2 linked regions of the Homo sapiens genome follow. The protein of the gene in region 1 interacts with the protein of each later gene in a pairwise test. Each region holds a gene or a part of one and is shown on either strand. Other genes may lie near its edges.

Region 1 (15,112 bases):
TATTCCATCATATATATATTATATGATTATATGCATATAATATATATATAATATAGAGATTATATATAATATATATAGAGAGAGATTATAGATATATTTCTATCTCACAATTTCTTTATCCACTCATTGATTGATGGGCATTTGTGCTGATACCACATTTTTGGAATTGCGAATTGTGCTGCTATAAACATGCGTATGCAAGTATCTTTTTTGTATAATGACTTCATTTCCTCTGGGTAGATACCCAGTAGTGGGATTGCTGGATCAAATGGTAGTTCTACTCTTAGTTCTTTAAGGAATCTCCGTACTGTTTTCCATAGTGGTTTACATTCCCACCAGCAGGGGAGAAGTGTTCCTGAAGGGGCCGTTTTCAACTAATTCCTTAAAATATGAATTAGATATTATCTTCTCATTTCACACATCGGGAAACTGAGGGTCAAAGAGGTTTAGCAACTGGCCCAATGTTACCCAGCTACTGGGTAGGATAGGTCTTTTTACTCAGCTGTTTTGAACTTGGGACCTCCTAGCCACTAGGCTGTTTTGGGCTTTGCAGACTGCACATTATATTACACTTGATTCTAGCCAAAAGGCCAAGAAGCAATTGCAAATTATATTACAAATTCCGTAGGCCTTTTTTACTTTGTAAATATTACAGTAGTAAATCCTCCACTCCTCCCTGCCTTGAGATTCTCCCTCTCTCTCCCTCAAGGTAGAATAATTGCTAACTGTTACAAGTTGGGTTCTCTGGGAAGCAGACTCTGAGACTGCCTTTAGTGTGAAGGAGGTTTATTAGGGGGAGCCATTGGGATCAATAACTGGAGACAGGCAGGATTAGACAGAAGCAGAAGTCGAACTGTGATGCAGGCTGGCAGAACCCAGCACCTGGGCTGACATGGATGCATCAGACTTGTCCCACATTGGGCCAAGATGGCCTTGTCTCTTTACCCTCGCCTGACAGGTCATGGGATGTGGGCACACTGGGATGGGTGTGACCTTAGGGGAGGCGACTCTTGGCTGCTGGAGGCTGGCTGCCCACAGGTATGTGGGAATAGCCACAAGTCCTCCTTTGAAGGGGACCTGGGCTGCACATCTCCCCATGCATCCCACTAGCCCTGGAGGAAATGCTTCCTCTCATTTATCACTTACAATGCTTGTTGTGTTTATTATATTTGCTTCACAATAGGCTCTCAAGAAAGAAAAGTTGAATGAATACAGGAAGGACCATCTAAGAAGATACTTATTCAATACCTAAGTCTGTGCAGGTTGAAGTATTTTTCTTCCCTCAGTCTGTGGAATTCAGTCTGCCATCCAGATTCTTGAGAGTGGCCGGGCGCGGTGGCTCACGCCTGTAATCCCGGCCCTTTGGGAGGCTGAGGTGGGAGGATTGCTTGAGCCCAGAAGTTCAAGACCAGCCTGGGCAACATGGCGAGACCCCGTCTCTACCAAAAAAAAAAATGCTTCTTAAGAGCTATGCAGTCTCTTCTTCCCCTTCTTAAGAGCTATGCAGTCTCTTCCCCTGTGGCCTCAGGTGGGTCACCATATGGGATAGTCCTGGTTTATGCTTGTTGCCCAGCCTAATGGTTAATAGTACCCTCTTACCCTCTCAAAAGTGGATGGGTTTGGTGATAAATTATACGGTCACTTATTCATAGACCTTTGGAGTGTCAGAGCTGGAAGGGGCCCTCTAAGGAAACCAGGTTTTCAAGACTGATGTGACATGGTCCCCAGGTCTTGGTGTCTTCCTCTCCCTACCCGGCTAAAGAAGAAATATCCACTGTAGCCACTACCTTCCTTCCCTTGGCTCTTTCAGTTGCTCATCTTTAAGAGCAGGCAGGCACTCTAACATTTCGAATCTGTCCCCACCTCAGTCCAGAGTTGTGCCCCTACTATCTTCATATTCACCCCCTCGTTTCCTATGTACGCTGATACCTGCAAGACTGTCCTGCTAATGAGCTGTGTTTCTCACCTTTTAATTAGCAAATATTAAGAAACAAACCCAAGGTAGGTGGGGTGTGAGGAAATGGGTTTGCTCACATACCAGATGGCAGTGTAGGTTGGAACAGCCTTTTTGGATGTCTGTTGGTATATCCCATGAAATAAGTTTAAAAAGTTGTCAGAACAGTTTCTTCAGAAAAACAAAAAACTCCTGGCACAGACAGAATTCAAGGGGATTTCTTTCAAATATTCCAAGTATCAGGAATTCCAATGTTAAATAAAGCTTCCCAATTCTTTTTTCAAAACCAGGATAACAGTGATACCAAGGCCTAAAAAAGCACATCAGAGAAGACCCTGACTCGCTCTTGGCCTGCATGACTCAGTCCTTTTGGAAGGCTGAGTGGAGAGGATCACTTGAGCCTAGAAGTTTTGAAACCAGCCTGGGCAAAACAGCAAGACCCTTATCTCTACAAAAAGTAAACATTAGCCAGGCATGGTGGCATGTTTCTGTAGTCCCAGCTACTGGGGAAGCTGAGAGGTGAGAGGATCACTTGAGCCCAAGAGTTTGAGGCTGCAGTAAGCCATGATCACCAGTTTTCATCTATCAGATTGGCACTTTTATCCATTGTTGGTAGGAATTATAATTGGCACAAACTTTTTTGAAGGGCTTTTCAGTAGAATCCATCAAATAAAAAACACACATATCCATTGACCCAGCATAAATTCCAGGAATGTATCCTACTTGCACACGTGTGCAAAGAAGTATGGATGAGGAGATTTTAATATCTGTTACAAGAAAAGATTAGAAACAACTATGCACCATTAAGAAGCCAGTTAGGCTGGGCGTGGTGGTTCATGCCTGTAATCCCAGTACTTTGGGAGGCTGGCAGGTGGATCACCTGAAGTCAGGAGTTCGAGACCAACTTGTTCAACATGGTGAAACCTCGTTTCTACTAAAAATACAAAAATTATCTGGGTGTGGTGGCAGGCACCTGTAATCCCAGCTACTCGGGAGGCTGAGGCAGGAGAATCGCTGGAACCCTGCAGGTGGAGGTTGCGGTGAGCTGAGATCGCGCCATTGCACTCCAGCCTGGGCAACAAGATCAAAACTCCTTCTGAAAAGAAAAAAAAAAAAAAGAAGCCAGTTAAATAAACTATGGTAAGAGGCAAATGAGTATACCATTCGGATATTATCTATGCCTTGAATTCCTTTGTCTCCTTTTTTCACATAGCTAGCTAGCTCTTTCACTTACCATAACTTGCAGTTATTTCATTAGTTCACTTGTATTTTTGGTTCCCTCTCTCTTTAGAATGTGAGATCTGGCCAGGAGTGATGACCCACACCTATAATCCCAGTGTTTTGGGAGGCCAAGGAGGAAGAATTGTTTGACTAGCCTGGGCAACATAGCAAGACCCCATCTCTACAAAAAAAACAAAAATAGAATGTAAGATGTGAAGGGGGCAGGGTCTGATTGTATTTTTTACTGTCGTATTCCCAGCACTAGTGTTGTATTTGATACTCAATTTAAAATGACTGACTGTATCTCAAATACAAGTCATCCTTATTGGTGAAGCATTCTCATTAAATTCATCAGCAAGAATATCAGGTATCACCATTATTATTTAGCATTATTTGGGAAGCATAGCTAAAGCAATTAGATAAGAAAATGAAATAAGAAATTTAAATGTTAGAAGAGTTGAAAATATTAAAGTTTATATGTCTATGCCCTTGGGGGCAAAACACAAATAAACAGAAAATTTAATGGGAGAAATTCTGGGCTAACCCTTTGCTGTTGCCTTAGCCAAAGTGATTTTGCTATGTAGGCATTTTTAGGTGAACCTTTTAGCTAAATATAATTTCAAACTTTTAAAAATGGCATATATATACCCTTTACCCAGATTTACCTATTTATGTCTTGCCTCATTTAGCTATATTAATAACGATGTCTCTCTGTATACATATGTGAATTGAAACCATTGCATCCCTCATCACCCAGATACTTATTAGTGTATATTTCCTAAGAACAGTGATTTTCTTTTCTATACCCAGTTATCAAATCAGGACATTTAATCTGAATGTAAGGCTACTATCTAATCTACAGTCCATTTTCAGAATCTGTCAGTATGTATTTGCCGAGTCTCTTTAGTCACCTGTAATGTGGAAACACTCCTCTCTCAGTGTTTCTTCACCTTTAGATTGTTGAAGGGCATCAATCAGTTAGTTTGTAAAAATGACCCCCAATGTTGATTTATCTGATGTTTCCTCAATGATTAGATTGAGATTATGAATTTTTGGTGAGAAAATCACAGAAATGGTATTGTGTCCTCCATATCAGGAGACCACGATGTTGGTTTAACTTCGTATTTTGATGATAGAGTTGACCATTTGATTTAGATGGTGTCTGCCAGATTTCTCCTGTAGTGTTATTATTTTTCTTTTTGTAATTAACAAGTAATCTGCAGAGTGATACTTTGAGACTCTTTAAGTATCTTATTTCTCATAAAATTTTCACTCCTTAAATTAAGCATCCATTGATGGTTTTCTAATTCATCATTCTCCTTTTATATTTATTATTTGTATTCTACTATAAGAAAGATTTCCTTTTTCCTTCATTTATTTGTTTATATTTGAGTGCACTCATTGATTCTTTTATTCAACTCATTTTATTCAATGAGTTATGATCCATTATTATATTATACCTAATTTTGGCTTCCTGTAGTGTGAATTTTGATCATACAGAATTTCTCTGCCTCCAGTCCTTCTCTTCCTGAGTTTTCAGACAAGACATCTTACATACCTTTGTTACCAATTCATTACACTCAAAAAGTTTCCCCCCACAAAAAAAGCCTTCCCAGACTAAAGTTTGCTTGATCAATTTCTCTATGGGCTTGATCTGTATCAACCACTTGTTTCCCTGTTATTATTTGTGTAATATAGGTGACATTCTTGTGTTTGCATGTTTGTGTGTGTCCATGTGTGTTGTATTAATGCACATATTACAGATTTAGGGGACTTTGCTTCATGGTTCTAAAATAGATCATTTGATTTCGAGATTAGAAGTTTCTCTCTCTACCACTAGCAAGTTTTTAAACAAAGTTAGCTGCCTCGGGTATCCAAAGTTTTTAATTTAATTATATTCAGATTTAACAACCACAAAAAACCTTACCTTGGCAAAAGATGAGAGGTAAAAAGTGATCAGTCACCTTTTCTTCCTTCCCCAGATTTATATAGGAATCAGTATTGTTGCAGGAAAGAACAATCTATCAGAAGTAAGATCTCTATCAAAGTCTTAGGATATTGTGTCTAAGAGTTCAGCTATTCAACAAATATGTAGCAAGGGTCTGTTATGTGCCAGAATCTGGGTTACGAAGTGGCCAACAGCAGGAACCAAGCAGACAGAGCCCTTGCCTTCAAAAAACTAGCATTCTAGTAGGACAAACAGCAAACAAATAAACATGGTAATATATCAGCTGGTGCTAAATGCTATGGAGAAAAAATAAAGCAAGATAAGGGAAAAAGATTTTGATGTAGTTTTTTATATAGAGAGATTAAGAAAGAAAACTGAGATGGTAAATATTTGAAGAGACCTGGGGTCAGGAGGATAAGAGGGTTGAGAGAGCTTACAGGCAGAAAGGGCTGCAAATACAAGGGCTGTGAAGTGGGAGAGTGCTTGGTGGACCTGAGAACTGAGCCTTGGGACATTGCTATGTTTGGATATCAAGGGGATGAAGAATCAGCAAAGCAGAAGTTCTTGATGAGGTAGGAGAATAGAGAGGTACTTGGATGCCAGGTGAAGAAGCTGTTTCCAGGAGGAGATGGTAACTAAGTCAAATTTTGCTGATGGGTGAAGAGAAAATACACTGAGTACAGATACTCTTTGGAGGTTTTTGCTGTCAAGGGGAGCAAAAAATGGGATGGAATCTGAAGACTAGTGTGGGACCAAGGGAGGGGTTTTTAAAGGTGGGGGTATTTGTGTATGATAGTAGGCTGATGCGAATTGTCCAGTAGATGAGAAAGAACTGTTGATGCAGAAGAGAGGGGAGAGTAGCAGGAGCAATATCTTGAGCACATGAGCAGGGTTGTAACGGAAATGTGCAAAGGGAGAGACTGATTGAGCTAGGACTAAACATCATCTACAGTGTCTAGAGGGAAGGCACAGTGTCAGAGTTAGGCACAATCAGACAGAGAAGCCAGTAAACCAAGTGGACCAGCAGAACATCAGCCTCCTTTTTTCTTATCTTGCCTTGATTTTTATCCTTTCTTCTGGCATCTGTAAATTGCCATTTCTTCAACCTTCACTTAAAAATGTTTTTCTGTGGTTTGGTGGGAAAAGGATGTGCCAGTGTGTCCTGTTCCTGGAAGAAACAGAAAGAGTGAAAAAGTTTGACAAGCTTTAATGTTATAGGGAAAAAATACATCCAGAGAGCTTTTAACATGATAGTTGAAACTATCTGAATATGCAGTACACTCTAAATGGTAACCATATTTGAATGTTTAGAAGAATTCTCTAGCCTTTTAATTATTTAGGTCTCCTTATTTATAAAGTAAATTAAGGTAGAAGGACTTATCTGGGTAAATAAGTATAGATCTGTGGAGATGTTTTACATTTATCATTTTCCTGATTATAAAAGGAATATGGCGGGGCGTGGTGGCTCATGCCTGTAATCCCAGCACTTTGGGAGGCTGAGGCGGACGGATCATGAGGTCAGGAGATTGAGACCATCCTGGCTAACATGGTGAAACCCCGTCTCTACTAAAAAATACCAAAAAAAAAAAAAAAAAAATAGCTGGGCGTGGTGGCAGGCACCTGTAGTCCCAGCTACTTGGGAGGCTGAGGCAGGAGAATGGTGTGAACCTGGGAGGCGGAGCCTGCCGTGAGCCGAGATCTCGCCACTGCGCTCCACCCTGGGCGACAGAGTGAGACTCAAAAAAATAAATAAATAAAGCAATATGTGTTTGTTGTAAAATATTCACAGTTATAGACACGTATAAAGTGAAGTAAACTCTTTCCCACCCTGTTGCCAACCTTCAGAGAGAACCAGAATTAATAGTTTATAATAATAGTTTCCGCCGGGTGCGGTGGCTCACGCCTGTAATCCCAGCACTTTGGGAGGCCGAGGCGGGCGGATCACGAGGTCAGGAGATCGAGACCATCCTGGCTAACATGGTGAAACCCTGTGTCTACTAAAAATACAACAAAAATTAGCCGGGTGTGGTGCCGGGCACCTGTAGTCCCAGTTACTGGGGAGGCTGAGGCAGGAGAATGGCGTGAACCCGGGAGGCCGAGCTTGTAGTGAGCCAAGATCGTGCCACTGCACTCCAGCCTGGGCGACAGAGCAAGACTCTGTCTCAAAAAAAAAAAAAAAATAGTTTCCATATTTGATCAGTGTTTGCTTCCAATTAGCTGTTTGATCAATTTTCTTTTCTTTTTTTTTTTTTTTTTTTAGTATTTATTGATCATTCTTGGGTGTTTCTTGGAGAGGGGGATGTGGCAGGGTCATAGGATAATAGTGGAGAGAAGGTCAGCAGATAAACACGTGAACAAAGGTCTCTGGTTTTCCTAGGCAGAGGTCCCTGTGGCCTTCCGCAGTGTTTGTGTCCCTGGGTACTTGAGATTAGGGAGTGGTGATGACTCTTAATGAGCATGCTGCCTTCAAGCATCTGTTTAACAAAGCACATCTTGCACCGCCCTTAATCCATTTAACCCTGAGTTGACACAGCACATGTTTCAGAGAGCAGGGGGTTGGGAGTAAGGTTATAGATTAACAGCATCCCAAGGCAGAAGAATTTTTCTTAGTACAGAACAAAATGGAGTCTCCTGTGTCTACTTCTTTCTACACAGACACAGTAACAATCTGATCTCTCGTTCTTTTCCCCACATTTCCCCCTTTTCTTTTTGACAAAACCGCCATCGTCATCATGGCCCATTCTCGATGGTCACTGTCTCTTCGGAGCTGTTGGGTACACCTGCAGAAAGGCTGTCACTTCACACTTGGAAGATTGCACAGCAGCCAGGCAGAGGCGCTCCTCACTTCCCAGACGGGGCGGCCGGGCAGAGGCGCTCCTCACATCCCAGACGATGGGCAGCCGGGCAGAGGCGCTCCTCACATCCCAGACGGGGTGGCCAGGCAGAGGCGCTCCTCACTTCCCAGACGGGGTGGCCAGGCAGAGGCGCTCCTCACATCCCAGACGATGGGCAGCCGGGCAGAGGCGCTCCTCACATCCCAGACGGGGTGGCCAGGCAGAGGCGCTCCTCACTTCCCAGACGGGGTGGCCAGGCAGAGGCGCTCCTCACATCCCAGACGATGGGCAGCCGGGCAGAGGCGCTCCTCACTTCCCAGACGGGGTGGCCAGGCAGAGGCGCTCCTCACTTCCCAGACGGGGTGGCCAGGCAGAGGCGCTCCTCACTTCCCAGACGATGGGTGGCCGGGCAGAGGCACTCCTCACCTCCCAGACGGGGCGGCCGGGCAGAGGCGCTCCTCACATCCCAGACGATGGGCGGCCAGGCAGAGATGCTCCTCACTTCCTAGACGGGGTGGCAGCCGGGCAGAGGCGCTCCTCACATCCCAGACGGGGTGGCCGGGCAGAGGCGCTCCTCACATCCCAGACGATGGGCGGCCAGGCAGAGATGCTCCTCACTTCCTAGACGGGGTGGCAGCCGGGCAGAGGCGCTCCTCACATCCCAGACGGGGTGGCCGGGCAGAGGCGCTCCTTACATCCCAGACGATGGGTGGCCAGGCAGAGACGCTCCTCACTTCCTAGACAGGGTGGCGGCTGGGCAGAAGCTGTAATTTTAGCACTTTGGGAGGCCAAGGCAGGCAGCTGGGAGGTGGAGGTTGTAGCGAGCCGAGATCATGCCACTGCACTCCAGCCTGGGCAACATTGAGCATTGAGTGAGCGAGACTCCCTCTGCAATCCCAGCACCTCGGGAGGCCGAGGCGGGCAGATCACTCGAGGTCAGGAGCTGGAGACCAGCCTGGCCAACACGGCGAAACCCCATCTCCACCAAAAATACAAAAACCAGTCAGGCATGGCGGCGCGTCCCTGCAATCCCAGGCACTGGGCGGGCCGAGGCAGGACAATCACGGGAGCCCGAGGCAGGGAGGTTGCAGCGAGCCAAGATCACGGCAGTAGAGTCCAGGCTCAGCAATGGAGGGAGACCGTCGAAAGGAGGGAAGGAGGGAGGAAGGGAGGAAGGAAGGAATCAATTTTCAACAGAAAACTAAAACTGCCTGCTGGCAACATTAATTTCCAAATCTAATCTAACTCATGAGTATTTTAAATTCAGGGGCTTTATAAGTGCATGTTAATTTAAATTGCACAGATTAGAACAGCCTGTCTCAGGACAGGATGTAAAACTGACCTTTGTTTCTGAATTAAATGTTTCTTTGATACTGAAATATTGAAATGCCGGTCTTAGCTTTTGACTTGTGGGTTTTCATGGTCCCTGAACAATAAGCACAATGCAGTTTTAAAGACTGTTTGCTTATTTGATGAAATTTCGTACTTTTATAGGAGAATGGGGTACTAAGAGAAAAGCACGAAGCTGTGGATCATAGTTCCCAGCATGAGGAAAATGAAGAAAGGGTGTCAGCCCAGAAGGAGAACTCACTTCAGCAGAATGATGATGATGAAAACAAAATAGCAGAGAAACCTGACTGGGAGGCAGAAAAGACCACTGAATCTAGAAATGAGGTAAGCCTGTCAGAATATTCAAGCCTTGCCGTTTTGGTTTTAATGTAGATTTTGTGGCATTGACAGTTTGTGTCAAGAATGAGCATGTAAAACAGTATGCTCTACTATTAACAAATATGATATATGAAAATACCTATGTCTTTAAGTTATGGGAGTAGTAATTTGATTTATAAATGAATTAGCCCATACAATTGTTTTCTCTGGTTAAACTCAAGATTTTGTGTGTATGTGCACACACCCCCTTCCAGGACCTTGCTAGCAGGTTTTGCTAGTTATGTTTGCCAAGGCAAGTGATGAAGAAATGGGGAACCTAGGAGTCCTCAACCAGCCACATGCACAGGTAGCCAGGCTGGCCTAGTCCAGGAGAGCAAGCCGAGGACCAACCCTACAGCCAATCACCCATGATGTCAGCTAAGGCTTGGGCTGAAATCTTTGTTCAGTCTCCTGGCAGGCCTGGCTGAACCGTTGGGCATCCATGGTCCAGTGGGACCACCTCCTTAACTCCTCATTGCCTAACCTTACTCTTTGGCTGTGAGAAGAGGTGTACAAAGATGAACTCCCGGAGCCAGGCTGAAGGGATGGATGCTTTCTGCGATCTGTGCTTCCTCCTCCTTTCATTTGGGCTGTACTCTGATTTCTCTTCAGCCCTGCTGAGGTCCTGCCCACAAGCATGGCAAACAGGCACTCGAGATATTTAATAACCACGTGGCACTTCCACCTGGAAGGCATACCCTCAGGGGTCTTGCCCTGACGGTTTTCTTAGGCATCACCTGCTTTAGCATGTCCCCTTCCCAGAATGTGGAGTTTAGGGCTGTGTTTTGAATACCTTGGAGGATGGAGAGTACCATGCCCTGACCCTTCTCAGACAGCTGTCATCATGGTAGCCCTGGCCATGTAATATTACATGGAACATTACTTATTTTGCATGAAATCAGAAAACAGGTTTGTTCTCTTTGCCTGCCTACCACTCCCTTGCCCCTCCAGCTTCCACCTAGAGCCCCTTGGTGAAATCTAGGGCAGGTCCCATAAATTCTAGATACTAATGAAAATCGCTCTGGCCATCCCAGTGCAGCAATTGATAAGAATAACCCAGTGTGTCCATGTACAGTTGCTCACACCTATAATCCCAGCACTTTGGGAAGCCAAAGCATGCAGATCGCTTGAGCCCAGGAGTTGGAGATCAGCCTGGGCAACATGGCAAAACCCCATCTCCACAAAAATTACAAAAATTAGTTGGTGTGGTGATGTGTTCCTGTACTCCTAGCTATCCAGGAGGCTGAGGTGGGAGGATCACCTGAGCCTGGGAGGTCGAGGCTGCAGTGAGCTGTGATCACACCAGTGCACTCCAACCTGGGCAACAGAGTGAGACCCTGTCTCAAAAAAAAAAAAAAAAAGTATAACCCAATGTAATTTCCAAGAACGCTGAACCAAAAGTTAGCTGGGCGTAGTGGTGTGTGCCTGTGGTCCCAGCTGTTTGGCAGGCTGAGGTGGGAGGATCACTTGAGCCTGGGAAGTTGAGGCTGCAGTGATCCGTCATCATGCCACTGCACTTCAGACGGGGTGACAGAGCAGGACCCTGTCTCAAAAAAGAAAAATCCAAAACAAAACACACTGGGCTAAAATTCAGCATCTTTCCTCAGTTTTGTGTGGCCTGCCCTGCTGATTTCTCTGGGGTTGAGGGTGTGGGGTGCTAAGAACATAGGAAATTGTTTCTCTTGACCACGCGATACATTTAAATATTATACAACTCTTTGTCACGTGGGCACCTTTTCGTGTATAGGTTCTTTGGAGACCCCTGGCCCCACAGCTGGGAGTCTTCCTCTTGACAGGGGCAAATGCATCTCCACTGCAGCTGGTCCTTTAGGACTCTTCCCTGAATGTTCCGTGGTATACATGCATCTCACCTCTTCAGGTGGCCCTCTCAACCATTTGCTGGCCGCCTAGCACCTGGAAACATGCCCTTAGACCCTTTTCCAGTTCCCTAACTATGGCTCTTGCATGGTTTCTCATCGTTTATATTTCCCAGGCAAAAACAGGACACTAAGCTTCTGTGTCCCCAAACTGCGGAAAACACACACTGAGTTCTAAGTGGTCTCCTTGAGGCCCTTTTTGACATTCTTCAGATGAAGGGGAGGGGGTAGAGAGCACACCCCAAGGAACCCTCCCATTTTCACTCTGACCAGTGGAGCTTTAACCCTTTTGTAACCCTCAATTGCAACCTGGCATTTGGCAACTGCCTGTTCTTTTTTCCCAGCTGGTATTCTCCCCAGCTCCTCTGACTTATCTATTTCCTAATTAATGGATGCATTGTATGGTTTTACCACTCTCCCCACAGCATACATACTGTATTGTCAAATCATTACCCATGGACTTTTATATTAAAATACTGACAGAACCATATATATGTTGAAGAGGACAACATTTCTGCCCACTTCCCTGAGTATTCACAGCTCTGTTTGAGGGAAAAGATGTTTTCACTAGTCTTTCACTTATTTAACACTGAATTGTATATTGCCTTTCTCCCAGGTATGTCTTCGTCTTTACTCCCTCACTGGGCTTCCCAGAAAAGCAAGAACTGTAACAAACTAATTCACTGCTAGGCACAGACTAGGCACTTACTAAATATTAATGAGGAGACAAATGAAGTAGGGAGCTTCCTTGGAGAGAATTTAAAATGTAATTTGACATAGGACAAACATCAATTTGGACAAAACTTTTCAGAAACATATTAATCATTCAAAGCCAGGCATTTGTGCCTAATTCTTATCAGGCTTGGTTCCTCATTGTGTTATCTCCATGTTCCTAGCCTGAGCATTTACGTCACATCTTCGTGTACTTAACACTTTTTTTTTTTTTGAGGAAGGCGGCGGGGGAGACAGGATCTCACTCTGTCACCCAGGCTAAAGTGCAGTGGCGCTGTCATGGCTCACTGCAGCCTAAACCTCCTGGGCTCAGGTGATCTCCCACTTCAGCCTCCCAAGTAACTGGGGCTATAGGTGCACACCACCATGCCCAGCTAATTTTTTGTATTTTCAGTAGAAGTGGGGTTTCACCATGTTGCTCAGGCTGGTCTCAAATTCCTGGGCTCAAGCAATCTGCCCACTTTGGCCTCCCAAAGTGCTGGGATTACAGGTGTGAGCCACTGCACCCAGCCACATTTCTTATAGTAGCTCTGACAAGATATTTCTGTTCTTTTATTGGGCTATTACTTAGTAGGTGCTTTTAAAGCTTGTTGAAATAAAACAGAAATGAGTTAGACCAGTGAATCACTGGCATTTCCATTCTTCCAGATGACAACTCTGGAAGAATATCTAGGAAATGGGGACTGGTACAATTCTAGCTACCCTTTAGAAATCAGAACCCCAGTGGGGGCCCCAAAGCTAGATATAAGATCTGAATGCACACTACCATCACCATCAAGAATCCTCGGCCAAGAGAAAGTACAGTCTGGAAAATGATATAAACACTGGTTCTTGAAAAGAAAAATGCAAAACTGCTCCCCAAAATGCTCACCTTTTAAGAATTAAAAATGACATAAATAGCCATGAGTCAGCATATGCAAAAGTCAGGATTCCTAGTCCTCTGAAAAAGACTCTAAATCAGTGTTTAAATTGTTCATAGGAACAGAATCTATAAGGCAAGAACAGACTATCATGAAAAAAGAAAAAGATCTAGAAAAGAGCCCAAATGAAATTCTAGATATGAAAAAAGTCATTTTCATTGAAAATTCAGTGGAAGTGATGTGAACAGCTAAGGAAAAGGGTAAGTTGGAAGAAAGATCTAAGAAAATTATCTAGAATATACCAGAGAAGATGCAAAATATGAAAGCAAAATTGAGACAATGATAGAAGAGAAAAATCTAAGTTACTTCTAATAGGAGTCCCAGAAGAAACTATAAAATATGAAAGATAAGCAATATTTAAAATGAGTTTATGGCAAAATATTTCCAGAAAAGTCCTCAGATTAAAGGACTACACAGAGCTCCTAACGAAAACAAATTAAGTCCTAGACATACCAGATTGAAACAGAACGTCAAGAACTAAGAAGAAACATTTTTTAAATTACCTGAGATAGAAAAGTTTCATTATAAATAACACTGAGAGCAAACTTACCAGTAGTAATAAATGCCATAAGACAGAGTACTGAGGGAAAACATTAAACCTTATATTTTTACCAGTTAACTCATCATTTAAGCATGAAGGCAAAATAATTCCATGTAGGCCGGGCATGGTGTCTCATGCCTGTAATCCCAACTCTTTGTGAGGCCAAGGCAGGTGGATCACCTGTGGTCAGTAGTTCAAGACAAGCCTGGCCAACATGGCAAAACGCCAGCTCTACTAAAAATATAAAAATTGGCCAGGCGCAGTGACACATGCCTGTAGTCCCAGCTATTCGGGAGGCTGACACACAAGAATCAATCACTTGAACCCAGGAGGCGGAGATTGCAGTGAGCTGAGATCTCACCAGTGCTCTCCAGCCTGGGCGACAGGACAAGACTGTCTCAAAATAATTCCATGTAACAAAAACTGGGTTTACTGCTCAGGTCCTCTCTAAAAAGAACTCTGAAGAGTTCTTTCAACTAGAAAGAGGCTAAAGCATAAAGGCCAGGAGTGAGATGAAGCATCGATAAATTGGTTTTAAAAAAACAAATTGGAGTAAATGTAAATAAGTATTGACTGTAAAAATATTTTTTGAGACGAGATCTCATTCTGTTAGGCTGGAGTGTGGCAGCGCTGTCACGACTCACTGCAGCCTCAACCTCCTGGACTCAGGCAGTCCTCCTGCCTCACCATCCCGGAGTAGCTGGGACCACAGGTGCACACCACCACACCCAGCTAATTTAATTTGTAGAAACGGTCTTGTTGTGTTGCCCAAGCTGGTCTCCAACTCCTGGGCTCAGGCGATCTGCCTGCTTTGGCCTCCCAAAGTGCTGGGATTACAAGCGTGAGCCACCACACCTGGCCAAAATTATATAATTGTGTAACCAACTGGGAGGGCTGGCTATGGAGGGGCAAAATAAGCTGAAACTAACAATTAGCCAAAAATTACATGGAAGTTGTTTATGGTAGGAATAGAAATACTGATTAGCTTTGGACTTTTAAGTATGCATGTTGAAATACTGAGTACCATAATCAGAGAAATAGGTCAGCTGCAGTGGCTCACGTCTGTAATCCCAGCACTTTGGGAGGCCTAGGTGGGTGGATCACTTGCGGTCAAAAGTTCGAGACCAACTTGGCCAACATGGTGAAACCCTGTCTCTACTAAAAATACAAAAATTAGCCAGACGTGGTGGTGCACAGCTGTAATCCCAGCTACTCCGGAGGCTAAGGCAGGAGAATCCTTTGAACCTGGGAGGCAGAGGGTGTAGTGAGCCGAGATTGCACCACTGCACTCCATTCTGGGCCAGAGTGAGATCCGTCTCAAAATATAATAAAAAGTAGAACTTCCAACCAAGGAACATAATAGCATAAAAATCCAGTG
Region 2 (15,853 bases), about 25 Mb from region 1:
ACGGGGTGAGGGCCCTACTCGGCCTCTTGCTGGAAGAGTGGTGAGGTCACCGTAATGAGAACGTGAGGACAGGAGAGATTGCTACAGCCCTCTCTGGAAAATGCCATGTGTGACATCATGAAAGGTGACGTGGCTGTTGCCCAGGCTGTGGACCGCAAATGTCCGGGAATGAGGCATGTCTCCCGGGTGGTGGACTCCTGGGCGGTTTCAGTCTGGGGCGATTATGAACAAGGCTAGGACAAGCCTGATTTCACCTGCACGCACGTCTATGGGCCACGGTCCTGGCTCTCTGGTCCTCCTGGGAGACCACAATGCTGTTGTATTAGTTTGTTCTCATGCTGCTGAAAAAGACATACCCTGGTTGGGCACAGTGGCTCACGCCTGTAATCCCAGCATTTTGGGAGGCTGAGGCAGGTGGATCACTTGAGGTCAGGAGTTCGAGACCAGCCTGGCCAACATGGTGAAACCCCGTCTCTACTACAAATACAAAAATTAGCCAGGCATGGTGGTGCACACCTGTAATCCCAGCTACTTGGGAGGCTGAGGCAGGAGAATCACTTGAACCTGGGAGGTGGAGGTTACAGTGAGCCGAGATTGTGCCACTGCACTCCAGCCTGGGCGACAGAGTAAGACTCCATCTCAAAAAAAAAAAAAAAGACATACCTGAGTCTGGATAATTTATAAAGAAAAAGAGGTTTAATAAACTCACAGTTTCACGTGTCTGGGGAGGCCTCACAATCATGGCGGAAGGCAGAAGGCGCATCTCACGTGGTGGCAGACAAGAGACAGAATGAGAGTCAGGCCCAAGGGGGTTTCCCCTGATAAAACCATCAGATCTCGTGAGATTTATTCACTACCACGAGAACAGTGTGGGGGAAACCACCTCCGTGATTCAATTACCTCCCACAGGGTCCCTCCCACAACATGGGGAAATTACGGGAGCTACAACTCAAGATGGGATTTGGGTGGGGACACAGCCGAACCGTATTGGCTGTCTCGCCAGGCCCTTTGGAAGAGTCTAATGGAGGAATGTGGAATACCTGACCCAGTGACTGGCACCCAAAAGAAACTCAACCTTGGCAGCTCTTAATTGGCTTCTTGCTGTTGTCTGAGCATGAGGGAAAGGCTGTCACAGAGGGACTTGGGCTTCCCCGGAACAGGTGCCCCAACCCCAGCCCGTGGGTGGAAGATTCTTTGCTGTGGGTCTGTCCTGTGCACGCAGGTGTTGACCAGCCTCCCTGGCTCCCGCTTACTCCACGCCAGCAGCAACTCCCTGTTAGAGAAAAAGAAGACATCATTCAATGATGCTTGTGGAAGATGGGAAGGCAGCCTGGAGCCGTGGGTGATGCCTGTGATCCCAGCCCTTTGGGAGGCTGAGGTGGGAGGATCACTTGAGCTCAGGAGGTCGAGGCTGCAGTGAGTGATGATCATGCTGCTGCACCTTAGCCTGGGCAATAGAGTGAGACCCTGTCTTTCTCAACACAAAATAAAAAACAAAAAAATTAGGCTAGGCATGGTGGCTCACGCCTGTAATCCCAGCACTTTGAGAGGCCAAGGTGGGTGGATCACCTGAGGTCAGGAGTTCGAGACCAGCCTGGCCAACATGGTGAAACCCAGTCTCTACTAAAAATACAAAAAAAGTAGCTGGGTGTGGTGTTGGGCACCTGTAATCCCAGCTACTCAGAAGGCTGAAGCAGGAGAATCGCTTGAATCTGGGAGGCGGAGTTTGCAGTGAGCTGAGATCACGCCATTGCACTCTAGCCTGGGTGACAGAACGAGACTCCGTCTCAAAAAAAAAGCAAAGAAAGAGCCAGAGAAGCCTGATTGGGTTTTGCTCCAGGAGAGAAATTTGGTCACCTCCCCCACCACCGGCATGACAACCAAGGATGCAGGAAGCTGTCCAGGCCGAGGGACCCCCAGAGGCCAGGTCACCACTGGGTGGGAACTACTGTGTTTTTGTTTGTTTTGAGTTTTTTTTTTGGAGACAGGGTCTCGTTCTGGCACCCAGGCTGGAGTGCAATGGCGCCATCGTAGCTCGGCTAATCTTTGCATTTTTAGTAGAGTCGGGGTTTCACCATGTTGGCCGGGCTGGTCTCGAACTCCTGACCTCAGGTGATCTGCCCACCTCGGCCTCCTAAAGTCCTGGGCGTGAGCCATTGCGCCCAGCCGGTCTTTTCATTTGAGAATGCTTTGCAGTTTACAACGAACTTCCCCGTGTCTGGCCCTCAAGTCGATCCTGTTTCTATTTTAGGGATGAGGAGCGGGCTCAAGGGTGGCAGCCGTGCCCTCAGGGCAAGTGGTGAAGCATTGGGAAGTCAGATCCCACCTCCTCCCTCTCCGGGGCTCTTTGTACCTCTCCCAGATTTGACATGCACAGGGACCCCTTTTCCCTCTGCTCCCTGCACAGGCAGAGGTCCCCCGCCATCCCAACAGCCCCAGCCCATCACTGCTTCCTGGGAGGAGCCTGAACACTGGGACCCAGCCAGGGGGCCCCCACACTCCTGGGAGGGCCTTTGTTCAGGTGGAGCCTTCCAAGGGCACAGGACTGAGCCTGCCGCACCCAAGACAGCCCTGAGCATGCAGGCGGACCAGGTCGAGGTGTGGCCCTGCCTCTGCCGAGAGAGTCACATCCCCTCTCCTCCTCACGGGGGCAGGGAGTGCTGGAGACGAAGGGGTGCCGCTGAGCCCTGCCGTCCTGCAGAGAAGCATGCATCGTGTGTGGCGGTCAGCAAGCACCTGCCTGCAGAGGCTGCCCCTTCCCGAGGCGTGGGGTGCAGACACTGGGCCCCCTTTAGCTCCCGGGGAGCCACGCTGAACTTCCCGAGCTCGGGGTGGGATGTGGCCGGGGGTCCTGAAGTCCAGCCTGTTCCGGGCTCCAGTCTCCACTTTTCTGGGATCTGAGTCCCTGGGGGAGAGCCTGTGGGCATCCTGAGGGTAGAACTGTTGGGGCCACCTCTCACACGCCATGCTCAGGGCTCCTGCCTGTCTTCTCCCTGCAGTAGAATTGATCCTGGTGGTCTCCGTGTCCCTTCCTTTCCCCGACCTCAGCCGGGGCCACCTGAGTCCCCCGGGTTACCCTGCATACCTCCAACTCTCAGGAAGAAGCGAGGGTAGGAGGGACCCCACCCCTCCCGGGGCGCCCCGGGCTCATGGTGCAACTGGACTCGTCTCCCTGCAAGAACCAGCCCTGCACCGCTGGGGTCCTGGGGCAGACCCCGCTCTGTACCCCAGTCCCAGAGCCCCGGCTGCCACACCGCTCTTCCCGGGGCAAACAGGGACAGCCTATCCGGGCGTAACTAAGGCTGCCTCTGCCATAAAGCCGTAATCACAGGGACATTCACCAAGGCATGGGGCAAAGGTCTGCATGGCCCCTTAGAACCTGAACCCACACAACCACCCCACGAGGCAGCCATTCTTTCCTCTATCTCACTTTACATTGAATTGTATAGTTTTGAATATGTGGCCTGACGACAGCCAAAAGAACATAAAACGGGTTTTCCAGAGAAGTCTGGTTTCTCACCCTGCCCCGTCCACCCCGCCAAAGGCACCTGTTTCTACTGGCTTTTCTTTTTATTTTTTAGAGACAGGGTCTCGCTCTCTTGCCCAGGCTGGAGTGTAACGGCACAATCTTAGCTCACTGCAGCCTCAAACCCCTGGGTTCAAGCGATCCTCCCACCGCAGCCTCTTGAGTAGCTGGAACTACAGGTGTGCACCATAGGGCCCTGCTAATTTTTTTTTAATTTTTTTGAAACTGAGTCTTACTCTATCACCCAGGCTGGAGTGCAATGGCGCTATCTCAGCTCATTGCAACCTCCTCCTGGGTTCATGTGATTCTCCTGCCTCAGCCTCCTGATTAGCTGAGATTACAGGTACCTGCCACCACGCCTGGCTAGTTTTTTATATTTTTAGTGGAGACAGGTTTCACCATGTTGGCCAGGCTGGTCTTGAACACCTGAGCTCAAGTGATCTGCCTGCCTCAGCCTCCCAAAGTGCTGGGATTACAGGCATGAGCCTAGCTATTTCATATTTTGTAGAGACAGGGTCTTGTTCTGTTGCCCAGGCTGGCCTTGAACTCCTGGGCTCAAGCGATCCTCACACTTCAGCCTCCCAAGCAGCTAGGACTACAAGCATGTGCCACTATGTCTGGCTAATTTTAAAACTTTTTGTAGATATGAGGTCTTGCCACATTGCCTAGTCTGGTGTTGAACTCCTAGCCCCAAGCAATCCTCCTGCCGTGGCCTCTCAAAGTGCTGGGATTACAGGCGTGAACCACTGTGCCCGGCCTCTATTAGCTTCTTCTTTTTTTTTTTTTTTTGAGACAGAGTCTCGCTCTGTCGCCCAGGCTGGAGTGCAGTGGCGCGATCTCGGCTCACTGCAAGCTCCACCTCCCAGGTTCACGTCTTTCTCCTGCCTCAGCCTCCCGAGTAGTTAGGACTACAGGCGCCCACCACGCCCGGCCAATTTTTTTGTATTTTTAGTAGAGACGGGGTTTCACTGTGTAAGCCAGGATGGTCTCAATCTCCTGACCTCGTGATCCACTCACCTCGGCCTCCCAAAGTGCTGGGATTACAGGCGTGAGCCACTGCACCTGGCCCGGCCTCTATTAGCTTCTTGTTCATCCCTCCAGTCTTCCTTGTACTGGTGCAAACACGAATCTACATTTTTCTCTCCTGCCCTTTCTTACACTCAAGGTAGCATATTATACACCAGTTCTGCACCTTGCTTTTTCATTAACAATGTACCCCAGAAGACCTTCCAAATCAGCACGCAGAGGTCTTCTGCTTTCTTTTTCATAGCTGCATAGTACTCTGCTCTGTGGCTTGCTAAGTGACTTAGCTAGGCCCTCAACAATGGCAGCTTGGCTGTTTTCAGTCGGTCACAATGACCATCGATGTCACCGTGGTGATCCTTGCACCTGTCCCTTTTACATATGAACAAGCAGGTGAATGGCACAAGTTTCAGAAACGGGATTTCTGAGGCTGAGTGCTGTAGCTCACACCTGTAATCCCAGCACTTTGGGAGGCCAAGGCAGGAAGATGGTTTGAGCCCAGGAGTTCAAGACCATCCTGGGCAACATAGCGAGACCCTGTCTCTATGAAAAAAATATAAAAATTAGCTGGATGTGGTGGCACACACCAGTGGCCCCAGCTACTCAGGAGGCTGAGGCTAGAGGATCACTTCAGCCTGGAAGTTCAAGACTGCAGTGAGCTAGGATTGCACTACTGTACTCCAGCCTGAGCAGAAGAGACTTTGTCTCAAAAGAAAAAAGAAGAAGGAGGAGGAGAAGGAGAGGGAGGAGGAGTGAGAGGAGAAGGAGAAGAGGGGAGGGGAGGAGGAGAAGAAGAAGAAGAAGGGGGGGGAAAGGAGGAGAAAGGAGAGGGAGGAGGAGTGAGAGGAGAAGGAGAAGAGGGGAGGGGAGGAGGAGAAGAAGAAGAAGAAGGGGGGGGAAAGGAGGAGAAGGAGAGGGAGGAGGAGTGAGAGGAGAAGGAGAAGAGGGGAGGGGAGGGGAGGAGGAGGAGAAGAAGAAGAAGGGGGAGGAGAAAGGAGAAGAAGGGGGAGGAGAAAGGAGGAGAAGGAGAGGGAGGAGGAGTGAAAGGAGAAGGAGAAGAGGGGAGGGGAGGAGGAGAAGAAGAAGGAGGAGGAGAAAGAAGAAAAAGAGGAGGAAGAGGAAAAAGGAGGAAGAGGAAGAAGGAGGGGGAGGAGGAAAAGAAAGAAAAAGGAGGAAGAGGGGGAAGAAGAGGAAGAGGGAGGAGGAGGAGGAGGAGAAGGAGGAGGAGGAGAAGGACAAAGAAGTAGTGGGATTGCTGGGTTCTAGCACAAATCGGGGCCATGGTCTCATGGACAGTGTGGCCAGACTCCTTCCCTGGGGCTCCGCTGCCTGGCCCCTCCACCAGCAATGCGTCCAAGGGCTCGCTCCCTGAGCCGTGCCTTTGGGGCACGAGATCTGATTTGGGGATTCGCCTGGACAAGAAGCAGAACGGCAATGTCTTTCTCTGATGTGCATTTCTCTGATTACAGACACCTTTTCACATGTTTGTCCTGTGGATTTCTTTTTCCGTGGATGATCTATTCACCTCCTTTGCCTTCTTTTATTGGTTGTGTTCTTTCATACACGTTTAGGAGCCCTTTGCCTGGTAGATCTGAGTTGCAAGTATTTTTCCTAGTGTGTGCTTTGTGTTGTGACTTTACTTCCGAGGATTTTTGCCTTGAATCTGTTTTGTGGTATTTAGATTTTTAATCATGATTAGAGTAACCTTTTTCCACTCTGAAGTTATAAAGAAAGTTACATATGTTTTCTTCAAGGCTGGGCACAGTTGCTCATGCCTGTAATCCCAGCTCTTTGGGAGGCTGAAGCAGATGGATTGCTTGAGCCCAGGAGTTCAAGAACAGCCTAAGCAGCCTAGTGAGACCCTATCTCTATTTAAAAATATAAAAGTTAGCTGGGCATGATGGTGCATGCCTGTAGTCCCAGCTACTTGGGAGGCTGAGGCAGGAGGATTGCTTGAGCCCAGGAGGTCCGGGCTGCAGTGAGCCAGGATCGTGCCACTGCCCGCCAGCTTGGGTGGCAGAATGAGATCCTGTTTCAAAACACACACACACACACACACACACACACACACACACACACACACACACACACTTTTTCTTTTTTTGGAGACAGAGTTTTGCTCTTGTTTCCCAGGCTGGAGTACAATGGTGCAATCTCGGCTCACTGAAGCCTCCGCCTCCTGGGTTCAAGTGGTTCTCCTGCCTCAGGCTCCCGAGTAGCTGGGACTACAGGCGTGAGTCACCACATCTGGCTAATTTTGTATTTTTAGTAGACATGGGGTTTCTCCATGTTGGTCAGGATGCTCTTGAACTCCCGACCTCAGGTGATCTGCCCGTCTCAGCCTCCCAAAGTGCTGGGATTATAGGCATGCGCCACCACACTCAGCTAATTTTGTATTTTTAGTAGAGACAGGGTTTCTCCATGTTGGTCAGGCTGGTCTTGAACTCCTGACCTCAGGTGATCCACCCACCTTAGCTTCCCAAAGTGCTGGGATTACAGGCGTGAGCCAGCTTGCCCAGCCAGAACTTAACATTTTTTTACAAAAGGAACTACTAAATGATGAAAAATTTCTGGAGATGGATGATGGCAATGTTTGTACCACAACGTGAATGTACTTAACGCCACCGAACCGTACACTTAGAATGGTTAACTTGGCCTAGTGTGATGGCCACCATGCCCAGCCTATTCACCTAATCACACCTGTGATCTTAGCACTTTGGGAGGCTGAGGTAGGAGGATTGCTTGAGGCCAGGAGTTCAAGACCAACCTGACCAACGTAGCAAGACCCTATCTCTGAAAAAATATTTTTTTAACTTAAAAAAAATGGTTAAAATGGTAAATTCTATGTGATGTTTACTTTACCACAATAAAAAGTAAACTTTGGCTAGGCACAGTGGCTCATGCGTGTAATCCCAACACGTTGAGAGGACGAGGCGGGAGGATCACTTGAGCCCAGGAGTTCAAGACCAGCCTAGGCAACAGAGCAAGATCCTGTCTCTACAAAAAAAAACAAAGAAAATTAGCCAAGCGTGGTAGCACCAGCCCTTGGTCCCAGCTACTTAGGAGGCTGAGGTGGGAGGATCACTTGAACCTGGGAGGTGGAGGCTACAGGGAACTGTGATTGCACCAGTGAACTCCAGTTTGGGCGACAGTGAGATGTTGTCTCATAAAACAAACATAAATAAATAATTCAAAATTTTAAAAATTAGGCTGGATGCAGTGGCTCACGCCTGTAATCCCAGCACTTTGGGAGGCCAGGGCGGGTGGATCACCTGAGGTCAGGGGTTCGAGACCAGCCTGGCCAACATGGTGAAACCGTCTCTACGAAAAATACAAAAATCAGCCGGTGTGGTGGCGCACGCCTGTAATCCCAGCACTTTGGGAGGCCGAGGCAGGCAGATCACAAGGTCAAGAGATTGAGACCATCCTGGCTAACATGGTGAAACCCGTCTCTACTAAAAATACAAAAAAAAAAAAAATTAGCCGGGCGTGGTGGCAGGCATCTGTAGTCCCAGCTACTCAGGAGGCTGAGGCAGAAGAATTGTTTAAATCTGGGAGGCGGAGCTTGCAGTGATCCGAGATCGTGCTACTGCACTCCAGCCTGGCAACAGAGTGAGACTCCATCTCAAAACAGCAACAAGAACAAAAACAAAATTTAACCAGACGTGGTGGTGGGCACCTGTGATCCCAGCTACTCGAGGGGGCTGAGGCAGGAGAATCACTTGAACCTGGGAGGCGGAGGCTGCAGTGAGCCGAGATGGTGCCACTGCACTCCAGCCTGGACGACAGAGTGAGACTCCATCTCAGAAATAAATAAATACAAATTAAAAAATTAAAGAGATAATAAAAGTGTGTGATTAGTAACAAAAGCCTGCTATGGAAAGAATGCATTTGGGTTAGAGGAGCGACACCATGAGTAACGTAAAGAGTCCCGCGGAGATGGCCACAGCTTCTCTGGAGGCTCCCAGCGCATCCCAGGACCCCGAGTGCAGAGTGTGGGCCAGGACAAGGGAAGCACCTTTCCCATCCCCGGGGGATGTCTTTCTGCAAACATCCTGGGGACGTGGGACATTGTCGCTACTGCTGCTGTTGAGTTATTTCTTGGCACCTGTTTCTGCGGCCAGGTTGCAGGCATCACTGTGGCTAGCTGCCCCAGACGGCCGTGTGGGCCTTAGCAAGGAGGGGCCTCCCAGGTGGCCAGTGCAGAACCCGCAAGTGGGGGGGAGAGATGGCCCGGGAGGCTGCCCCCGCGCTCCACAGCAAGAGGCCACTGGGCTGCTGCCTAAATCCCCAGCCACATGGTGGTAAGGACGACACCCAGAAGATGCACAGACCTCCCTGCACTGGCTCCTGAGTCCCACCTGAGCCGAGAAAACAGGCTCCCGGGTCCCACCTGAGCTGAGAAAACAGGCTTCCCAGAACCCCGGGCAGATGCCATGGGTGTCCTGGGGGGCCCTCGGTTGCCCAGGCCTGAAACTCCTCTTCCTGCAGCGCTCAGAGGGGGGCGGGACTTGGGGACCCAGAAGCGTGGCAAGGGGCTCCAGACGGATCCCCTCTCCAGCCTGTCCTCCACCTGTGACAGGAAGCAGAGGCAGCTCCCTCAGGGGCCCGCCCCCACCTGAGGATCCCTCACAGGACTCCTTGGGCCAGTGGTGCCCTAACCCCATCCTGGGCCTGCTGTGTCCCCTGGCAACCACCAGCTGGGGCTTTAGAAGGGGGCTGGCCCCACCCACAGAGGCTGTGATCACTAGCCGCTTATCCCCATTTTTACATTGCTGGTTTGCTTGTTTTGTTTTTTTGAGACAGGGTCTCACCTTGTCACCCAGGCTAGAGTGCAGTGATGAAATCATGGCAGCCTCCACCTTCCAGGTTCAAGCCATCCTCCTGCCTCAGCCTCCTGAATATCTGGGGCCGCAGGCACATACCACCACGCCCGACTAATTTTTGTAATTTTTTTGTAGAGATGGGGGTCTCACTGTGTTGTCCAGGCTGGTCTGGAACTCCTGGGCTCAAGCGATCCTCCTGCTTTGGCCTCCCAAAGTGCTGGGATTACAGGCATGAGCCACCGTTCCCAGCTGGCCTTAATGTTTTTTATGTTTATAGAGACAGAGAATGGGGGAAGGGAGGTTTCGCTATGTTGCCCAGGCTGGTCTTGAACTCCCGGCCTCCAGAGATCTTCCCGCAGGGCCTCCCAAAGCGCGGGGATTGCAGGTGCGCGCGGGGCCAGCGGCCCCCCGGGCGGGAGAGGAGGGCGTGGCCGGGGGGCGTGGCCGCGGGGCGGGGAGGGGGCGTGGCCCGGGGGGCAGGGCGGTGTGACGCGCGCGCCGCGGATCCCGGAAGCGGTGTCAGATGCTGGGGAGCCGGGCGGGCGGGTGCGGTGGCGGCGGGCGGCGCGGGGGCACTTGTTGTTCTTCGCGAAGTCGGAGCCCGAGCGCCAGGCGGCGGCGGCGGCCGAGGGGAGCGCGACAGTGAGCGCCGGCGCGAGGACAGCGCGTGCCCGCGAGGAGCCGCCGCGCGCCCGCGCCCTCCGCGCGACGCCAGGTGAGGGGCGGTGGGGCAGCGGGGCCCGGGCCGCGGCGGGGACGGGGACCGGGGCGCGGGGCCGGGGCTACCTGGCCGCTGAGTCACGGCCGCCTGGGGGCGCGGGCCGAGGGTGGCGGGGTTGGGTGCGCGGGGCCCGAGACCCTCATGCGGCCCGCGGCGCGGCCCGGGCACCTGCCCAGGTGGGCCCCGCCCCGCAGGCCCGGGGGCTTCCCCGGGACGCGAGGCTCTCTCCCCTGCACGTGCCGCCCGGGCCATGCTTGCCGCGCCGGGGGCCCCAGGGCGCGGACCCCAGACCTGGGAGGACGAGGATCCACGCGGGTCGGCGGCGCGCATCGGGCCCGCGCCTTCACACCTGCGGGGGGCGGGGCGGGGCGGGCGCCACGTGCGGGCGGTGCGGGGAGGGCGCGGGCGCGTGGATTCTCCGCGGCTTCCGCCCCAGCGTGGCTTCCGCGTGCGGCCCCGGACTGCCCCCCGCGCTTCCTCCCGGTGACGGGCGGCGCTCTGGCCCAGTGGCTGGGGTCACGCGTGCCCGGGAACGGGGTGGGGGTAACCGGGTCTCCCCACAGGCGGGATCCTGGGACTGGTGTCGCTCTCAGCCGCCCACCTGCCAGGGTTGCTGGAAGGAAGGCCGTGGGGAGGCGGGAGGGGGGCAGGTGACAGTGGCCCCAAGGCTCGTCCCTTTGCTCACGTGTGGGGCAGGGGCTCCGGCCTCTTCCCGCTCCCACTGCGTGAGTTCTTCTGTGCCTCTGTCAAGTTCAGGAAACTGTGTATGTGCCCGTGACTGTGTGTGTCTGCGTCTGCACAGCCTCTAGATCCTGGGGGGTGGGACCAGGCGCCACCGAGAAACCCAGAAAGCCAGGACCCCGCCTGGCCTTGGCCCTTGACCTGGGTCCGCCTGGGACACAGCAGTGGCCCTGCACTGCATTCTCGCGCTCACACCGTGTGTGTCCGTGTTCGCGGGGCCTCCCGTGTCCCTCTCCTGGTGTCCTGCGTCCCTGAGCATGCTGTTTTCTTGCTTCTTAAGTAGCTCTTGTAGCTGAGGCAGAAATTAGATCCACTCACCATTCATTCACCAGGTGACCCACAGGCAGCCAGCCAATCTCTGGCCAGGTGCCTGGCCTTGGGAAGATCCTGAGACTCAAAACGCCCCCCACCGCCCCCCATCGTGGTCTAGGGGATATCTGTGTGGTTCGGCTCTGGCAGCGCCCTTCCCACCCCTCTGATTCTCCAGGGTGGGCTGCCAGGTCTCTTTACTGGCACTGAGGTTTCACCGTCACGGTGTGTTGTTGTAAGGGGTTCTCCAACACAGAGTGGGGTGCCCTATGCAGCTTCTCCAAACCCAATGTCTTCAGGGACATGGAGCATTAAAAGAGCCGTGGGCGGGGTCTGGAGAACATAGGTGGGCTGTGCAGGTGTCTGGGACACACCTACACCCTATTTGGGCGTCCAGTGCCATTTATGAGAACATCTCCCTTTCTTAGGTAACCCAGTAGGAATGTCTGAGTTTGACCTTGGGAGAGGGAGTCTGCTTTTAAAACTAGACCTCTCATTATTCCAAAATAAGACATTTATTAAAGCAGAAAAACCAGGCTTCTCCTGCCTTTTATCCTTGAACCGAGCCAGGGCTTTGAGGGGCTGGTTGCCCGCAGCGTCGACTCCCCAGGTGCTGGTAAACCCGGGAGCCAGCGTTTACCGAGGGTCAGGGTTGTCGGGGCGCCAGCCTTTGTGTGCACCCGGGAGGCTGCTGTTAAGGGAGACCGTCTTCCGGGCCACTTCGCTGTCTACAAGGCGTGTGCTTTCACCCACGGGGCTCAGCGATGGCTGCGTTTGTTTACAGTCTCTGGCAAAGCTGTTTGCCACCCAGACGGAGAAGAAGTTGTGCCTGTTCTTGTCCCAGCTGTTTCTGAGTCTAAAGGTTTCTGGAGTGGACTTTCTGGGTTTCGGGTCCAGTCCACACGGGAAATGGAAATCTGGCCAGCTGAGAGAGGGCTCCGTGTGGCCGCCTTTCAACAGTAAACAGTGACTCACCGCTCCGTCCCCACCCTCCCTGCTCTCCGCGAATGGAAGATGCCTTTCCCCGCTATTTATTTTTGCTTTTTATAAGTCACAGACTCGTCATGTTTCCGCTTTCCTACAGTTTCAGGAAACTGGGAGTGTCGTCTTAAAATCATAGAGTTTTAGAGCAGGTACAAGCGAACTTGAGTGGCCACATGCCCCACCCCCCGACCAGCTGCTGTAGATGAGGAAGCCCAGGCCATGAGGTCTGCTGGCCTGTCCCACAGGCCGGTGGGGTCTGGTGTAGAGCCTTCCTGCTTCTCCGCACTGTGCGTCGGGTGTCCTGGGGAAGGTATTGGGGTGGAGACTGCCCTCTCCCTGCCCTCCCATGCGGGGCCGGCTCATCTCGTACAGCGGGGGCTAGTGTGGGGTGTAGGGAAGACCTTCTCCCTGCTTGCAAGGAGCTCACCATGCCTTGGGGAGGCCCCCTGTCCCCAGAAGGATCTAGAACCAGGCCTTGGTAGAGGGTGCTTGCCTACGCGAGGAGGAGAGCAGTGGGGAGTGTTTCTGGAAGAAGCAGGGCAGGGAACCACGTGCTCTCTGCAGATGGTGATCAGAAACCTGAAACGGCATTGGGGTGGGGGAGTCGGGGTTTGGGAGGAACCCCCAAGACTTTTGACTGCCTGTGGGGCTGTGTGGGGGGCACCAGGATCAGGGTGAGGGCATCCCATTTGGCAAAGCTGTGGTCCAGACAGGAGACGCTGGAGGCCGGAGCCTGGGCAGGTGCTGTGGGTTCAGGCGGGTGATGCTTGAGGGCTGGGATCAAGCCTGGTTGGCGCGTGGATGAGGAAAAGAGAGAGGGGCAGGGGCAACTCCGGTGAATGATGCGGTTGGGGGCTGGGGGGCATCTGGGCCCCCCGGAATGCCCCTGACTGGACTTAGAGGCTGGGAGCGGATTGAAGCCCCAGGGCGGCCGGGGGAGAACAGGATGCTGATGGGGAGCTGGAGGCCGAGGACAGGAGGATGGTGTGGTGGGAGCCAGGGCGGGGACTGGAGGGGGTGTGGTGTGTTCTGCAGTCTGCTCTCTGCTGCTGCAGCTGCCTGAGTCACCTCTGGATGTAGCGGAATGACACAGCTTCCTCAGACTGCAAATGCAAGGTGACCAGACGTCCTCCAAGCCGGGCCGACAGTCATGGCTTGCTGGAGGGCAGCCAGCCAGGGCCAGGCTGCTGGCTGGTATGGGCCGGGCTGCGGGGTGCCAAGTGGGGTGCCTCCCGCATGCTTAGTGGGGCTGTGTCCGGGACAGCCGGACAGTGGGGGCCCTCGCAGTGTAGGACCTCATCCTCAGTAGGAAGGGTGTCTGGCTGGTCTCTGGGACCAGCTGGGCTGCAATTAGTCGGTTGACACCTGTTTGACAGGCACCCACTGGGTACCAGTGCCACAGCGGCCCCACCTACCCTTGCGGCCCAGTGTGGAGGGCACCCGGCTTGGGGTCTCTGGCAGAAAGGCTCCTGGGAGAGGCGGGTACACCTTGGGTGGCCTCTGGTTTTGTGGATTGCACCTGCCGTGGGAGTCACTGGTCGGGGGGCGGGAGGGCGCTTGCTGCTGTGCTGCTGGGTTTCTGAACCCGTGTCTCTCGCACAGAGCTCCCGTCCTCCGTTCCTGGTCTTCCTCCTGCCCCTCCTCCCTCTCCCGCATCCCACATCCTCGGAGACCCGCGGAGAATAGAAGTGGAAGGGCCACTCCGTCTTGGTCAGACTGGCTGGGCAGCTGAGGGGGTGGGGCATGGAGTCTGTGTCATCATTCACCCCTTGGGCAAGAACAAGTGACCCATCCAGAGCCCCCATGCTGGCCTCGTAGAGCGAGCGGCAGCCCCGATGCGTCCTCTCATCTGGGAAGAATCAGAGCCCCAAAGCTGAAATCCCCGTTTCTCTATGGGCATCCACAGCCGGGACCGTTCAGAGGGGTCATCCAGCCGTCAGCTGCTCAACTCACTTTTGCACTCTCTCTTTTTTTTTTTCCTAAAAGATAAGGTCTTGCCCTGTCACTCAGGCTGCTGGAGTGCAGTGGTGTGATCACAGCTCACTGCAATCTCGACTTCGAGGCTCAAGCAATCCTCCCACCTCAGCCTCCCGAGTAGCCGGGACCATAGGCACATATGTGCCATCACAACTGGCTATTTAAAATTCTTTTTTTTTTTTTTTTTGTAGAGATGGGGCCTTGTTATGTTGCCCAGGCTGGCCTGAAACTACTGGGCTCGAGCATTCGGCCTCCGGAGGCGTTGCTATTACAGGCAAGAGCCACTGTGCCCAGTCCCAACTTGGTGGAGAAAATGTTCCCTCCTGGACCCCAAAGCAGGTCCTTCTCAGCTTGTGCCAGCACAGCAAGAGGTGCCAAGGCTGCCAGCCCCCCACTGAGCAGGGTCAGGCCCATGGGTGACCAGTGAGTATTTGCTGGGACTTAAAAAGTTAAAAATGGCCGGGCATGGTGGCTCATACCTGTAATCCCAGCACTTTGGGAGACTGAGGCAGGAAGATCACTTGAGTCCAGGAGCTCGAGACCAGCCTAGGCAACATGGTGAGACCCTGTCTCTACAAAAAAGTTTAAAATTCTCTGGGTGTGGGGGTGCCCACCCGTAGTCCCAGCTGCTCGGGAGGCTGAGGCAGGAGGATCGCTTGAGCTCAGGAGGTCTGCAGTGAGCTGTGATTTCACCACTGCACTCCAGCCTGGGTGACAGAGTGACACCTTGTCTCTAAAATGAAAATTAAAAGGGAAAACATGATCCTCCAGAAGCTGAGGTGGCTGCCTGGGGATCACCTGCTCCTGAAAGCACAGTTCTGGACGACTGACCCTGGGCTGCCTGCCCTGCCGGGGGGAGCCCAGGGCTCTGATCCTCACCCTCTGCAAGGTGCCTTCCTGGGCGGAGCCGCCCTGCCCTGCGCTTTATGGAGCCCAGGCCCTCAGTCTGGATCCTGGAAAGGGGCGCCCGGCGTCCTGGCTCCGTCACTCATCCCCAGCTGCAGCCGCAGGAATTGCCTCTGTCTGAGGCTGCTGGCAGTTCCTTTTCCTTGAGAGGAAGTGATGCCCCCGCTGAGCCTTGTTTAGTTCTGCGTCACGTCGAGGTGTCTGGCCTTGGGTTGAAAACCCTGCCTCTTCCATCCGAAAACCAGTTACCTGAGAGCTGTTCCAAGTTATAGGTGGTGCCGGAGAACTTTGCTGCCCGGCGCTGCTCCCGGGACGTGGGGCGTGAGCGCTGCACCCTTACTTACGTCGGCTGCTGGGGCCCCACAGCGGAAACTCAGACCCGCCCACCCAGGCCCCCGCTGTGGCGCTGAACACTGCACTTCTCTGGTGACCACCGAAACTCAGAGGAGCTCGGGGTGTCGGGTGCTTGTGCGTGGCGATGCTGGTGTTTTGTTAGCTGCTGGGCGTAAGACACAATGCGAGGACGTCGTTCCTCGGGGGCTGCTGGAGGGGAGCTTGGCTGCAGTGCTGACCAGGTGCTAATGCAGTAGCCCCTGCCTTGGGCCCGGGGTAGTGCACGGGCGTCTCTGCGACCCCAGGCACGCTTTCCCCCTGGATGACACCCTAAGGCTGCGTCTCTGGCCCTGGGGTGGGAGCGCTTTCTACATGTGCTCTGGCGGCCCTGGAGGCCATGTGAGGTCGGACAGTTCACAAAACCCCATTTAGGGCAGTCGTCATTTTTAGATCAGTTGCTTTACAAACTTTTTTTGTGCATACAAAACTCTTCTCTGAATGTCCTTC

Evidence for each region.
Region 2: the proteins of NFE2L3 (region 1) and MAFK interact in a two-hybrid assay, tested with the Homo sapiens proteins (one study listed by BioGRID).

The regions. Positions count from the first base shown.
Region 1 is NC_000007.14:26,168,492-26,183,603, forward strand, and holds part of NFE2L3 (nuclear factor erythroid 2-related factor 3), read left to right. Parts: intron 1-9,451; coding exon 9,452-9,631; intron 9,632-15,112. UniProt on the Homo sapiens protein: Activates erythroid-specific, globin gene expression.
Region 2 is NC_000007.14:1,520,809-1,536,661, forward strand, and holds the start of MAFK (transcription factor MafK), read left to right. Parts: upstream 1-9,893; 5' UTR 9,894-10,090; intron 10,091-11,644; exon of another isoform or gene 11,645-14,072; intron 14,073-15,853. UniProt on the Homo sapiens protein: Since they lack a putative transactivation domain, the small Mafs behave as transcriptional repressors when they dimerize among themselves.